2 separate regions of the Homo sapiens genome follow, and region 2 is linked to region 1. The links come from fine-mapping of genetic effects on gene expression. Tissue or cell type: whole blood. Region 1 holds a variant in brackets; the other region holds the start of a gene. All regions are shown on one strand. Distances are between the middles of the regions.

Evidence for each region. PIP is the estimated chance that this variant, and not a neighbour inherited with it, causes the effect.
Region 2: LIX1-AS1 starts here. The variant in region 1 is fine-mapped to the expression of LIX1-AS1 in whole blood (TOPMed, PIP 0.95).

What each region holds. Positions count from the first base shown.
Region 1 is chr5:97,130,181-97,138,369 of GRCh38, reverse strand. The region is part of intron 1 of LIX1 (limb and CNS expressed 1); the gene reads left to right. Among named protein-coding and RNA genes, the nearest start is that of LIX1, 8.3 kb to the left of the region's middle. The variant C/T (reference allele first, on the strand shown) is at 3,954.
Region 2 is chr5:97,070,173-97,078,361 of GRCh38, reverse strand. LIX1-AS1 (LIX1 and RIOK2 antisense RNA 1) reads right to left here and starts at 4,637. Exons shown (of 8, transcript NR_187470.1): 1 at 4,524-4,637.

The DNA of each region.
Region 1 (8,189 bases):
AAATGTCAAACATGCCTATGAGGAGAAACCACTTTCACTGACTGAAGGCCAAAATCAGGGCAAACTTTCTCAAAAAGATTGTTTAAAAAGTATCTTAATTGTCACTGTAGCCATGAGAATGAGTTGGTTTCTAGCATTGACTTATGAAGTGACATGTAAGATTTCACTGAGATTTTTTCCCAAATTTTATAATGAAAAAGTAAGATGGATCCTTTACTAAGCGTTGAAAAATTGGAAGCAAATTTCTCACATATTTGAGGTGCATTAACTCTTCCATTTGGGAGAACATTTTTCTGCATGAAAGGTTTTATTTATATCAGATAGGTGAATACTTTACTTCAAAGAGTACGTTTTTTGCCCTTTGGAAAAACTGGACCAGACTACAGGGCTATTAAAAACATCTTAGTAATCATGAATCTAGCTATATGCAGCATGAGAGAGCAAGAATCCTCAGGAGTCAAGTACTTTATCCACCCCATGCTTTTTAGTACAGTTATGTGAAATCAATAAATTTATAGTTTTCACATTTCACAGAAAGGAATGGAGTAGGATGTAAAGGCTGAAGATTCTTGTGCAGTAAAATCCCTATACATATTGCATTGCATTCCACCACCCCTGAAAAAATACAGTTTAAAACCACAAAAAAAAGCCAAACAAAAATAAACCCTATAGTGCTTGCTAGCTTATTTTAAAATAATGAGTGCATCTTAATTACAGTAATTTGAACTCTGCTAATTTTAGCATCTAAACTATGGATGTCTGTTTGACTGAAGCCTATTCAAATGCTAATTTTACTTTATTTATCATAGGGCCTAATTATTTTTATTTGAATTTATACTAAGGAAGAAATATAAATTTTAGTACAGCTATCAATGGCATAAGAGCTGGTTCTTTTTTTTTTTCAGTAAATATACATTTGACAGAGTTTAAAGTTAAATGTATAAAAGTCTCAACCCTAGAAGACAGGTTTTCAAACTGGAAAAAATAGGTAGCTTCTTGATCACTTTATGGCTTTATCTGTCCTAGTACATTTATTTCTCATAGAAAAGTAAGATTTAACAGATCAAAATAAATATGATAGACACCTATCCTGTGAGATCAAATCTGGGACCTCTTCATTGACTGCTCTCCCATCTCACCAGAGGTCTTTGGTGGTGGTTGCTGTTGTTTTTAACAGTTAAGATTTGTTAGTCTGAACTCAATTTTAACAACTTCTGAAACTCATGTGTTAAGTTACAGCCCATAATAGGATACAGATGCATAAGGGTGAGTTTCTAAGTTATGATCTTCTGTTTAAATGACACGGTTTTACTGATTATGTGCTACAGATTGATTTAAGAAATGTAAGACAACTTTAGAAGCCTTTCATAAAAGAATCTTCTTTTTGTAATACATTTCATATTGATGTTTTAACCCCAAACACTCTTACTTCTTTTCCTCCATGTTCAAATGCCCATGTAAGTTTAGTCTGTCAAGGTAGTTAAAACATTTCTATTTTAAAAGAAAAAAAAAAGAATCCTATTGAAAGATTGACAAAATAGACAATTATTACACTCCCCATAGTTCTTTATATTTTTTTCTCTAGTGTCCATGAAATGTTTGAATTATGGTTTCGGTTTTTTTTTCCTCCTGCGATGATAATCAGTTGATCCCTATTTTGATCTCATCCCGTTAAGCAGCTGTGAGAAACCATCATTTCGTCACCACTCCTTTGGCACTTATGGCCTGTGCTATTTAGTTTACATTTCCCTCATGTGGCTCTGTACTAAGTGTTACAGCTTCAATGTGGTGTTTTTGTCCACACCTAAGTTGTAAGTTCCAGGAGGGCAGAGCTGTACCTTGTACTTTTCTGTAACCCCCAGGTAACTCCCACAGGAACACACACCTAGCAGTGCACAATCAGACATTTTTGGATTGCCAATGGTTGATTTTTCTTCCTCGCATGAAGGGGGTAAGATTCTGCCCACTGTCAGGTGTTCTCCTTTACGATGAAATAAACTGTGCCAAGACCCTTTTAAGCCATTTATCTTCTGACTCCATTATCACAGGCTAATTACATGCAGGGTTAAGTTGATAGCCAGATGATACAGAAGACAGCATCAAGAAAGTCGGGGCTCTAAAGACAAACACACCCTCTCGGCTAGAGCTCTGCCTTGGGTTGGCCCTATCACACTCTCTCAGAATCATTCCATATGCCATGTTGGCACAATGGCTTAAATTGCCCATCCTTACATTCATCCATTAGATCTACCCCCGACTGTGAGTCACCAAAGTCATGCACGCACCATGCTCTTTAGAGCCAAACTCTGTGCCTTGTGCATAAACCCTGGTTAGATAGCTGTGGCAGGATCTTGAGCATTCTTATAATGACTGTTTCCAGGGAAGGAAGATGCATTACACAAAGCCACATTTACACTTATTTGACCATTTTGACTAAGAAGAACTGATCAGCAAAGCAACCAGCATGACTAATCCTTTATTGGTTGTCTAAAATCATTGGTCCTCTAAAGTCTCTTTTATTTATTTTTATTTTTTTATTTTTATTAATTTTGAGACAGAGTCTCGCTCTGTCACCCAGGCTGGAGTGTAGTGGCATGATCTCAGCTCATTGTAACCTCTGCCTCCTGGGTTCAAGGGATTCTCCTGTCTCAGCCTACCAAGTAGCTGGGATTACAGGCGCCCACTACTGCACCTAGCTAATTTTTGTAATTTTAGTTGAGATGAGGTTTCACCATGTTGGCCAGTCTGGTCTCAAACTCCTGACCTCAAGTGATCCGCCCACCTCGGCCTCCCAGAGTGCTGGGATTACAGACGTGAGCCACTGCGCCTGGCCTAAAGTCTCTTTTAAATACAGTGCAATGTCATTACCCAATAGAATGTGAGAAAGATATGTACTTTCTGATTGGATAAATAGGGTACATCAGGCTTCTATTTTATGCAGCTTTTGAGATTGAATGACATCATCTGACCCAATGTGCACATATAAACCACATATGTGGAATCAGGCATGCTGCTTAACTATGGTATACTTAAAAACTTTTTAATTTGTCTTTGTGATTCCCTCTTACACCTTCATTAATTTTTCCCCTTCTTCCTTAAAAAATTACCCTGTGCTTCCAAATATACATAAAATAAGTGTTATTTAAATTTTCCCCTAAAAGGATTTACAGTTCATCGGTTTTAAATTCTAAAGGTGAAAATTAAGCAAAAAAGTATGATATCCCTTTTGCATGTTTTGCAGAGTCTCCTGAGAGGTTAACTTTGTAAAACAACCTGAAGGATCATAATTTCCTCAGGAATATGTTTGGGGTAAGGAGTGGGAATGAAAGAAGAAGAAAAAAAGCAAACAAAAGAAGAAACACAACCAGCTTTCCAGTTGGTGAAGAGTTAAGCTCTGACCTGGGAGCGTTACCAAAGGAAAGTCCCTCTGCTGGGAACAAAGCAAGACTCCAAGCTGTCTCAGTCCTGCTGTGTGCTGTGGCTACCTTTGAAAGTGTCTACACAAAAGAAAAAGGGGCCCCGAGATTCCTACATGTTGTACCCTGTGTGTCCACAAGATTCCATTAGCCTGGCCAAAACTTGGCAAAGGCTGAGTATAGTTAGAAACAACTAGACAGCAACTCTGTTTGTCAGTGTCCTGGGGTTCAGCTAAGCCCAGCACAAGACCCAAAGGTACCACATTTTTCAACTCATTTTCATGAATGTAAATCAGCGTCACACCTTGAGCTTACCCTTTCAATTGTTTAGGGTTCCTTTTCCTGTTGCTCCTCAAGAAAACTAGGAAATAACATTGGTAAAAACAAGTTGTACATGATTGAATTGCTAAAATACTAATTAACTTTATTTAAAAATATCACCTGCTAGGGATAATTTAATTAAAGGTTATATTAAAATATTACATAACATAAATCCATCTGTTCAGAGGTAGATAATCAATTTAGAAATATGGCTGC[C/T]GGGCACGGTGGCTCACGCCTATAATCCCAGCCCTTTGGGAGGCCAAGGCGGGTGGATCACCTGAGGTCAGGAGTTCAAGACCAGCCTGACCAACATGGTAAAACACCACCTCTACTAAAAATACAAAAATTAGCTGGGCGTGGTGGCAGGCGCCTGTACTTCCAGCTACTCAGGAAGCTGAGGCAGGAGAATCGCTTCAACCCAGGAGGTGGAGGCTGCAGTGAGCTGAGAAAGCTCCATTACACACCAGCTGGGCGACAAAAGTAAAACTCCATCTCAAAAAATATATATATATGGTAATCATCTTGAAAGCCTCTTAATGATTTATCCTTAAATGGCAGCCTTTCCAATTTGTCTTTGTTTTCGACAAGAGAAATTCTACCCAGCTAGAATATTTCCTCATGTAAGTCTTAAAGAAATTTGTTCTTTTTTTTCTGTCAAATTTATAATGGATTTTTAAGATCCCTTTTTGTGGACAAATGACTGTCTTCTATGCAGGACTTGTGTCATATTAGGTAATTGAACTAAGCAATGAACTATATGGTTTCTACTTTCCTGAAGAATACACTGTTATGAAAATTAATTTAAAATAAAATTAGCTCCTCATGGTAGTTTTTGCTAGGAGCAGGTCTATTGCCTTTAGCATCCATGGGAAAGTGAAAAATTGGGACCAAAAAAATCCACATTTTCAAATTTTGAGACATGTAGCATTTTATCCATTTATTTTCTGGCTATTAGGGAGTTCTCACTTTACCAGTGAATGTTATCAAAAGATCTTTCTCTTTTCTATCCCTGAACTCTGCACCTATCTTGGAAATAAATAGCACAATGTGTTCAGTTAGAGAATCTTCAGGTTGTAGACTATTTCTGGACTATTTAATGACTTAGTTTCCAAAACAGGAACAGTTAGTTTCAAAGATGCAATATGAAGACATATATTCATGCCCTCTCTTTTCTTCCTTTACTTCCTCCAGTCACAAATAATAGCTAACACTCTAGTACTTACAATGTGTGAAGTTCTTTTCTGAGCATTTTCCATTTTAAGCCTTACAGCACCCCTGTGATGTAGACACTACATTCCACAGATGAGGAACTGAGGCATGGTGTGGTTAGATATCTTGCAGTGATAGAAACAGGATTCAAACCCAGACAGTCTGGCTTCAGAGAACAGGCTTTTAACTACTAAGGAAACTTCCTGTCTGTTGATAAAAAGTGGAGAGACAAGATTCAGTGCATATTTTATTGTGTAATGAACTCATGCCTGTATTTGAGGACTCTTCTATAACAAACCCTGTAATCCATAAAGCATTTAAACTCTCTACATCTCAAACTTTCCCTATGAAAACATAGATCATATATGCTTATTGGCATCCTCATTGTGTCCAATCTGTGAAAATAAAAATACAATTTTATGTATATATACACAAATGATAAGCCCTGAATGTTGAGTATGATGCCCTCTGGGTGTCCAATTACTGATGTCCTTCTCTGAAGGGGCTTCATCTCCTTCCAGGCTGCAGAAGGAACACTCTTTTGCTTAATCATCTCCTACCCACTTCTAGTGGGTTTTTCTGTCCAGGCCCCTCTCAGAGAAATGTTCTACCTTGGGCTCACCCAGATACACAAGAGCAACCACACATTCTCTCTGGGGATCTGGGCCCTTCCTTGTGGCTCCACCTCTTCATGGATGGAGCCACCACAGGCAGCACAGCACCTTTGGCAAGGGCAAAGGACAAGGGACTCTGTTCCTACCCTTCTCTCCTGCTTGGGTAAAGCTGGGACATCAGGGCAATGGGGTTCACATCCAGTTATTAAAAGAAGCTAAGTCCTCTCACCCTGTCTCTTGTCAAATCATATCCCTTCCTACTGGCACTCTTTCCTATTGCTCCCTACACAGTTCCTCAATGGGAGTATCATTATTTCTCTCCCTTCACCCATCCCTCCCTCAACCTCATTCCTCTGAGAAGGGCTCAGCTTAGGCCTTTTTCCTACACAAATTTTTCCTGACCTTTTCAGCCCACATTCATCTACTCTTCCCCTTGCATTTATTTGATTATTCTGCCATAAATTTTACATTTTACATGTCACTTTAACATCATCTCTGTTCCACAATTTAGCACTCTAATATTTTGTTCACTAATTATATGATGAATATATTATTTCCCCAGTCGGATTGTAAATCTCCGTGGGCAGAGACCCGTCTTGGATTTTTCTATTACTTCATAGCATCAAGGTCAGGGTCAGCACATAGACATGCCAATGCCACATTGCAGGTTAATTATGGCGTTCTGTTCCACTGATCCCATATGGTATTTTTCAATTCTTTTCAACAGAGTGCTTCAGGCAGTCAACATAAATCAATTCGTGTTGGCATCCAAGACAAACAGACTTATTATCCCTGTTCAGGAGTTTCCTAAGCACTAGTTCTTGTGAAGGTACAACCCAAGTGAGTAGGCAGCCAGCAACCACATTTCTACCCTCACCAGGCTTCATCTCTCTCTACCCACTTTGCCATCCCCAGCTGAGACATGGTTGCCACCAATACACCCATGTTGTTTGAACACCATGGTGGTCTATCCGTGAAACCTCCTATTCCAGAATTAAGTCCTGACCACGCTGTGGATCACAGTGACTTCACTTACTTTCTACATGTTCATTCAATTGCACTAAAGCTGTTTAGACTATGTCGAGGTTTCTTAGATTCCAAATGAATTCAATGACTGCTTCTAGGTGAGTATCCAGCCTGTGCTGGATACCAAGGAGGCTACAGAGAAGAATGAGCCAGAGTTGCTGCCCTCTAGAATCCCAGTCTGCTGTGAGTTAAATAACAGAAAACTGTATTCTGTAAGATGAATTGTTACCACAAGGCATTTCATTCCTCTGGCCAGAAGGAAGTACAGCCAAGTCTGACTGGATACATTTAGCCAGGAGCACCACATCCATTTTATTAGCATGGTTTATAGGAGATTAAGTGCTAAGACATAGGGCCACTCATGGAATAAGAGTTCAGAAAAGGAGGTACATGTGGGTAGGAGCCAGTGAGTAAGACACAATGGAGGAGGTGTCATTTCCCCTGAAGTGTGGGAGTAAGCTGGATAGAAGGAAGGGAGGGAAAGGACACAACACTCAAAATAGGAGGGAGAACTTGAACCAAGGTACAGATAACAAATAAGCAACATGTGTTCAGGGAGGTGTGATGAGACTGTCCAGGCTGAAGCTAATCAGGAATTTCTGCTGGAGAGGGTCAAGGGTTAAATAACCAAGGTGTTCCATGTTGCTGGATGTCTTCATCAGTTAACTGGGAAAGCCTCAATGCTGACCTTTATAATAAAAGAAAGGAAGCTTCAGGAAGGGGAAAATGAAAACCTCACTTACAAGAGACTTGCTTGGGGATCTAATACTACTCTGAAAACTCTGTTGTGTTCAAATTTCAAAATACAGTGAAGAAGAAAGTAGCCACACTAATGTCTATAAACTACATGGCACATTTTCTTGCTATTGAAGCACAAAATATTTAAAACTCCTGTAGGGGCCTATCACCGTGTTAGAGAAAGCAATTAGGGGTAGTAGAATGAATTAAGAAGCTCGATCTGCAAAGTCATTTCAGAGGTACGCTGCTTTCTTTACTGTCAGCAGTTCTAAGCTGATAGAAATCACAAAAAGGAACTGGATTTCATGCTATTATTAATATTCCTCCTAACACTTATGTCTCCTTCTACTTCTTACGTCCCTTGCCTCAGCAAGGGATTTGATATTCTGCTTCTTTATTGTAACTTTATCAGTTAAACATCAGTTACCTTGACAAAAGCAAACCCAAAAGATGATTTGTGAAAGTTAAAGGCAGAACCAGAAGTGTTGCTCAGCTCATCCTTAATTCAGTGTCAGCCCAACTGCTACCCCTCTGCTTTCTCCAGAGCTCCATCTTAGGAGTCACTGCTTCCTGTGTCCGGTGTCTAGATTCGCTGTATGGCTGATTTATCTTGTCCTGGCTGTGGATAAAGTCCCTTCCCTTTAGTGTCCACTGGGAGAGAGTAGAAACTTTTCAAAAAGAACTTTACTAAACTTTCGGAGAAATAATGCAAAGCCATAGATAATGTGTTTTCGACTGTAGCTTCCTGACCCTGAGGTGGAAGGCACAACGAGGCAGAGACCTGGCCTTGCCAGAAGGCTCATTTCTCTCTACGGGGGAAACCAAGCCCCTCAGCAATCTCTGTCATTGAGTCTTATTTCTCTTG
Region 2 (8,189 bases), 60 kb after region 1:
TGTTTATAGTGTAGCCTAAGTGTACAGTGTTCATAAAGTATTCAGTAGGGTAATGTCCTAGGCCTTCACATTCACTCACTGCTCACTCACTGACTCACCCCAAGCATCTTCTAGTCCTCCATGCATGTTACGTGCCCTACACAGGTGCACCAGTTTTTATCTTTTACGCCATATTTTTACTGTACCATTTCTATGTTTACATATAGAAATACCAACCATTGTGTTACAATTGCCTATAGTATTCAGTACAGCATGCTGTACAGGTTTGTAGCCTAGGGACAATATGCTATACCACCTAGGTTTGTGTAAGTCCACTCTACGATGTTTGCAAAATGACAAAATCTCAGAATTCTCCCCTTCATTAAGCAATATATTACTGTCTCTTTTCTTTCCTTGCCAGCTCTCTCCCTCTCTCTCTCTATATATAGAAGTAGATGTAGGAGAGAATTTACCACCTGGACACTTGAAGGAATTAATTATGTTTATAAAGATGGAAATGATTATAAAAGACATATTTAGATCAAATTGAAAACAAATAATCTACTTCAGTTAACCATAGATTAATGAGGGAGGAAAGTTAAACAGCAAATATGATCAAGTAATCCTCTACAGTTGAAAACTGCAATCTCATAAAACATTAACTCAGACGGTGCTCTAATTGAATGATATAATATAAATGCTTGCTATCTTTCATCATAGTCTACTTAAATTTTTTCTTTTTCTTTTACTTCATTATTTTATTTTATTTTTTTTTTTTTGTGAGACAGGATCTTACTCTGTGGCCCAGGCTGGAGTGCAGTGATGCAATTTCGGCTTACTACAACCTCTGCCTCCCGGGCTTAGTTAATCCTCCCACCTCAGCCTCCTGAGTAGCTGGAACTACAGGCATGCACCACAACACCTGGCTAACTTTTTGTAGAGACAAGGTTTCACCATGTTGCTCAGGCTGTTCTCAAATTCCTGGGCTCAAGGGATCCACCCACCTCGGCCTTCTAAAGTGCTGGGATTATGGGCATGAGCCACTCCACCTAGCCAAATTTTCTTAATTCCACACAATTAGAAGTTCTAATGTGAATCGTTTTACATAGCCTTGGTATGCCCCTGCCCTTCTGCCCAACTAAATTGTGACATAGTCACTCTACCACTTGTTAATTGTGACAAATTTATATTCCACAATGTACATTTTAAATTGTTTAATTTCTTTTACTTGTAAAATACATTTTACCAAAAAAACCTCACCCGCATATGCTTTTATCTGGATTCCTAATTTTAAAGATATCTGCAGAGTCATTTTACACTTGTCCAGTTGTATACAGCCAAATCAGAGATGCAATAGTAGATTGTCATCAACAGTTGTAATAGTAGATTGTCATCAATAGTTTTTGAGCATAAAATCAAATTCCACTCATAAACATAGGCGAACAAATAGAGTTATCTATGGCAAATATTCTTGTAAATGTTGTTATCAGAAACTTATTCTAATCCCAAAGTTATAAGGTAACAGTCACTAGAATTATTAATACAGACCTTTCCATTTTACTGGGAGTCTGCCAGCCTTTCCTAGCAAACAGACTTGGACAAAAACTCAGGTTTATGATGATAAGAGATAGAAGAAATAATAATTTAACTTAAATTTTGGTATGCAATAGGTATGTCAGATATTTGTTGACCTTTTCTGATCCACCTGATAAGATGTCAGTCATGGCTGCCCCAGAGATGATCTACTCAAAGCCACTGTATCAATATTTCCCCTCCTTCGAAGTTCTTCATTGACAGGAACCAAAATTGGTGGCCTCTGTCTTCAATTATTTTGAGGCTTATAATTTTCTGTTTCTACTTTAACTGTGTGACTTGGATGAGTCTTTTAAGATCTATTATTACTATTATTATCACTTGTAAAACAAGAATATTTTGCTGTCTTCCTATGCAGCAAGTACTATCCTAAGGGCTTTACATTTATTTATGGCACACTTACTTTGAAAAACCCTGTGAGGTAGGAACTACTATTATCTCTAGTTTATAAATGAGAAAATAGAGTCAGAGAGGTTAAGTAGTTTGCCCAGAGACACACAGCAAGGAAGTTAAAACTGTCTATTGCCATTGTGTAGATCTGAGCACAAATGCTTTGTCATCAATGGTTAATTCAGTACTTTTTTGACTTTAATAAAGCTGAGAATCACCTGGGGATCTTTTAGAAACATAGCCTGTGGTGCAGTAGGTCTGGAGTGGGGCCCTTAAAATGTATTTCTAACAACTTCCCAAGTGACACTGATGCTTCTGGTCTGAGGATCGTATTTAGAGAAGGAATATCATCAACCATGTCCTCGTCAAATTCATAGTTCTGGGCTGCATCATGGTACACGGGCCATGTTATTAGTTGTCTCCCACTTGTGTAAGATGTAGAGGAAATAACATAAGATGCCTGTGAGGATTTGATGTGATCATCTGAGTCTTGCTCTGACAATTATTAACATTCAGTTGCCCATTAAAATTCTTTGGAATCCTAGGACTTTGTCTGCTCGTCTCCTGTCAAATTCACTCCCCATCACCAATGGAGAGCAGCAGAGTTACTTAATCATTTCAGTCTTTTTCCATTCATTTCACACAGCTGTAATCAAAAACATAGGAGACTTAGAAGCCGATATGGAAATATGCTTCTGCTCCTCCGGGAGACATTTTTAGCTAGAAAGCTACTGATCTAACCTCAGATCCTCAAGACAATTACCCAGGAGCTGCTGTTGACTAACGAGTGAGCATTTGAAGCACGCACACAAGAGAAAGAAAGTGTTTTACACAAACACAAGAGCTTCATGGGCCTATATGATCAGGCCTAAGAAGACTAAAATATCTTTTCCTAATAAATATTCATTGAGCTAAGCACTTTGCTACATGATTTCTAATTAAATGTCATATTTTAATTCTCACAACTATCCTGTGAGATAACTTTCTCATCCCTGTTTTTTAGATTTAAAAAAACTGAGGCTTGAGAATTTTACATGACTTACCCAATGTCACATAGATGACATGAAATAGATCTGGCATTTGGCTCCCAGCCCAGTGTGTTCTCTCGATTATATAACTCCGTGTTATGTTAGTCTACACAGGAGCCAAGGTAAAGCCATACTTACCTGGGATTGCATTCCTGCTCTTAAACTTAATGGTTATATAACCTTGGGTAAGTTGTTTAAATTTTCTAAGGCTTAGTTTTTCAATATAAACGCAGAAAAGGCATGTCTAGGAAGAATTAGGGAAGGAAGTAATACCTGAGCCGAGTCTTGAAAGATAAACAGGAACTTTCAAGATAGACTGTTGGGTGGGGCAGGTTAAGAAAAGTGTACCAATGGGAACAACTGTGCAAAGACATGGAGTTGGAAGACAGCATGGAGCTTCAGGAAATAACAAATATTTCAGGGGTGCTGGCTCATGCATCTCTGCTCTACAAAATGGGAGCCCATGAAAACAAAAATCTCCATCTCCTAGCTCAGTACCTAATCCATTATCAGTACTTCACAGCACAGGATAGGTGTTTCAGAAATACTGGTTGAATGAAATAAATGAATAGGTGAATGAAAATATTTAATATTTGCTGCTAAACTAGAGGAAGATCATTGGTCATGTACTGGTTAGGCTGAGTGGCTTAAACAACAGAAATTTATTTTCTCAAAGTTCTGGAGGTGGGGAAGTCTAAGATGAAGGTGCCAGTAGATTTGGGTTTTAGTGAGGGCTCTCTTCCTGGCTTGCAAATGGTCACCTTCTAGGTGGAGAGAGGAAGCTCCGGCGTCTCTTGCTCTTCTTATAAGGGCAAGTAATCCCACCATGGAAGCTCCATGCTCATGCCCTCAGCTCAATCTAATTTACCCCTCAAAAGGCCTACCTCCTCATAGCATAACATTGAGTGTAGGGCTTCAACATATGGATTTTGAGGGGACACAAACATTCAGTCCATGATAGAGACTTAATCGCCTTGTCTAAATTCAAGATACTCTATCTCCTTAGTCGTATATGTAGGATTAGGCTTTTTTCTTTTTTTTTTTTTGAGACAGAGTCTTGCTCTGTCACCCAGGCTGGAGTGCAGTGGCTCGGTCTCGGCTCACTGCAAGCTCCGCCTCCGGGGTTCACGCCATTCTCCTGCCTCAGCCTCCGGAGTAGCTGGGACTACAGGCGCCCGCCACCACGCCCGGGGCATTTTTTGTATTTTCAGTAGAGACGGGGTTTCACCGTGTTAGCCAGGATGGTCTCCATCTCCTGACCTCGTGATCCGCCCACCTCAGCCTCCCAAAGTGCTGGGATTACAGGCGTGAGCCACGCGCGCCCGCCTAGGGTTAGGCTTTATATTCTGTACCTCACTCCAGATACCACATCTTGGGGATAAAAATAATATCACAATGACCACAACAGTATCATTCTCTGGCTCTGTCCTTCACTTCCCACTTCTAGAAGTTCCAACTCTCTCGAATTTCTCCCGCACTTAAGATACCCCCAGGGCACAGCTCACACTTGCTCACAGGCGAATTCCTTCTTACCTTCTGGCATCTGCCATTATCTCTTCTCCTGCTCTTTTGTGCTGTGTCTGATGAATTCTGTGGCTGCTGATACCAAAAGCATCAATAGTCCCTCAAAGATGGTCAAGATGAAATGGGAGAGTTTCCTAACCCCCTTCACAGGATGTGTGACAGGGGTGTGGCTCATCTGTTCAGCCTCTGTGCACTCAAACCCCTTACTGGAGGGGGAGCATGCAGACGGGCAGGTGCAGGAGGCGGGGCAAACACTTTTGGGCTCCAGCCCCATGGTAGTAGCATCCAGGGTGGGTGCCTGCAACTCCCAAAGCCCCAGTGGGCATGTTACAGTGCTCTTTTAGCTCTGCCGTCCACAGACAGCTCAAGTGTTATCCAGCCCAGTGCCCTCTTGGTACCTGGATGCTGGGTTCTTGTCCAGCATCCAGGAAGAATCAGGTCACACAGGCAAATTGAAGGATAGTGAATGCAAGAGATTTTATTGCCAGATGGAGGTGGCTCTCAGTGGAATGGCTGGGGAGTGGGGAAGCGAATGGAGTAGGAAGATGTTCCTCCCCTGGAGTTGGGTCGTCCTGCGGCCAATCTCCTCTCCGACTGTCCCCAGCCAAACTCCTCTCAACATTCAGATGCTGCTTCTCTTCCCTCTTTCTCTACCACGCTGCTCGGCCACACTGCTATTCTTCTGTTCCTCTGCTCTTCTATTCGTCTGCTTTTCTGCTCATGGAGCCTGCAATTTGGGGTTTATATTGGTACAAGATGGGGGGTGGACATGGTGGGCCAAAAGGCAACATTTGGGTGCAAAAACAAGAATGCCTATTCCCATTTAAAGTCATGGGTTTCCAGGCTTGAGGGTGGGGCCTTTGGGAGGGAACCTCCCTCTTCTACCCGGTATTTCCCTGCCTCCTGTCTGTATAAATGCCACCACTGGTGGCCAAGCCTGCCAAAATCGCAGCTGCTCCTGCCATTGCCAGGAAACTAAGACCATCAAGGGATGAGGTCTACTCCCACATCTTCTCAATTCAGGATGAGGTTTGCCCACTTTCCTGTTCAGGCAGTAGCCCCAGAGCTGCTGTCTGACACTCAGGCTGCAAAGCTGTGCTGACCTAAGCTCTAGCTGCCTTAGCAGATATCCAGGAAACAGCTTCTCTGGTTTTTACGGAATGTTTTTTGAAGTCTTTCTCCCAAGGACATGAGTCCACAAGGGCTGAGTATTAAACTTCTCCCTCTTTAACACTGATCTGTTGACTTTGGACCAAAGCTCCATACTAACATGCCTTTTCCACTACAGAAGACACTCGTTTTCCCTCCCAAATCCCCCAGATGGTGACTGAATGTCGGTGCAAACTTAACTTTGGCTCAAGTTGGGATTCCCGCTTTGAGGTGAAACTCCCACAGGCACAATACAAACTTCTTTTGTGCCTCTTTTCTACTCCATGATACTAGACAAATGGTTAATACTTAATAACAATAATAATACTTTTTAAATGGGAAACTGGTAGTATAAAGATATACCGTATTTATGCACTACAGGGGGAAAAAAGTGACTCCTGAAAATGCTAAGCATTTCAATTCTAATACAAGCAGCCTGGTTCTGTAAACCTAGCTCAGCAAATCGTGCCTGGACGTGGTCAGTCCTCTATAAATACATAATGCATGAGCAGCTGTCTGAAAGGCTGCTGAAGCCAAGCAAAGAAACCTCACCTGTGGAGGATGCAGGCCTGGGGACGTTGTAGTAGGTCATGATCTCAAAAGAATGACCATGAAGACTTTCAATACACAAAAAATTGAATCTTAAAGACAATGATGTTCTCTTCCCCATTGAGATCCTTTAGAAAAGTAACATGACATGGTATGAGAGATAATAGGAAGGAAGAGAAGAAAACACTAGATGACTATCTACTATGTTTCTTTTTACTATAGACTTGCTGATCTCTTGGCTAGTTCTTGAATGTTCCAGGAATGTTCCCTTCTCAGGACCGTTCCAGTTGCTGTTCTCTATAACTAGAATACACCTATCTGAGAAAATTCATATGGCTTGGTCCCTGGCTTCCTTCAGGCCTCTGCTACACAACTTGGTCTTTCCTGGCCACCCTTTATAACAAGAGCTCCCTCCCTACTCTCTGTCCCTGTACCAGATTTTATGTTTCTTCATAGCATTTAACTACTGCATGGCCTTATATCATTTGCTTATTATCTCTCACACTACAGTGTCAGGTCCACGAGGTGAGGAACTGTGCTTGCTGTATTCATTGCTCTGTACCTAATACCTAACACATAGTAGGTGCTCAATAAATAATTTTAAAATGAATGATTATCTAAATATAAATTGTAGTGCAAGATACTGTTAACCATAAATACAATCTAGTAAAATATTTTAAAAGCTGCTAAAAAAAAAAACTCTAGCCAATTAAATTTGAAAGAGTTTAATTGAGCAAAGAATGATTCGCGAATCAGGCAGCCTCCTGAGCCAGAGTAGACTCAGAGACTCCAGCACAGCCACGTGGTGAAAGAAGATTTATGGACAGAAAAGGGAAAGTGACGTACAGAAATGGAAGCGAGGCACAGAAACAGCTGGATTAGTCACAACTTGGCGTTTGTCTTATTTGAACACGGTTCAAACAGTTGGCCACGCTTGATTGGCCAAAACTTGGTGATTGGCACAAGAGCAGGTTACAGTCTGTTTACAATTCCATTTAGGTTTGTTAAATCAAGTTTAGCCTAAAGCTGCCTCCTTACATATTTTAAGTTCGGCCTAAAGGTTTCTCTGTACATCATGAACTATGACAAGTGGAGGTGTAAACAGGCCATAGTCTACACTTGTGCCAATTACTAAGTTTTGATGAATCAAATGTAGCCAACTGTTCGAACCATGTTCAAATAAAGCAAATGCTGAGCTTTTACCAATCCAGCTGTTTCTGTACCTCGCTTCCGTTTTCTGTACCCCACTTGTCCATAAATCTTCTTTCAGCACGTGGCTGTGCTGGAATCTCTGAGCCTACTCTGTCTTGGGAGGCTGCCTGATTCTTGAATCGTTCATTTTTCAATTAAACTCTTTCAAATGTAATTCGGCTGAAGTTTTTCTTCTATCAGGTTATAATTCATGATGTTCAGAGAAACCTTTAAGCCAAACTTAAAATATGTAAGGAGGCAGCTTTAGGCTAAGCTTGATTTAACAAAGCTATTGTCAGACTTCTACTTCTGGGTATAATAGAGTTGTTTCCCACAGATCAGCCCTGAGAACAACTAGAAAACTGAGTTTAAAAAATTATGTGTATGTGTGTTTTAGAGGCTTGGGAGAGTTGCTGAAGCTAGAGAGCCCAAGAGTGGGGAGGGGGTTGGTGCAGAAGAGACAGTAGATCATGGAGAGGTGAATTGTTGTTGGGCTGTTTTTTCCCTGGAGATATATGCTGATTTGCAGAATAGGTAAGAGGCTGAAAACATGGACTTTGCTTGGAGAGAGGGAAGCTTCTAGAATTAACAAAACCAACAGAACTTTGTCAAGTTAATGAGGCTGAAGAGGCAATGTTAGAGACTCAGACTTGATCCTGGAGAAAGAGGAAGGGTAAGGAAGGGTAGAGAATTGTACCTGAAATATGCTTGAGATAGTTATGGTTAAGCAATGAAGGCCAGAAGTAGTGGCTCACGCTTGTCATCCCAGCACTTTGGGAGGCCAAG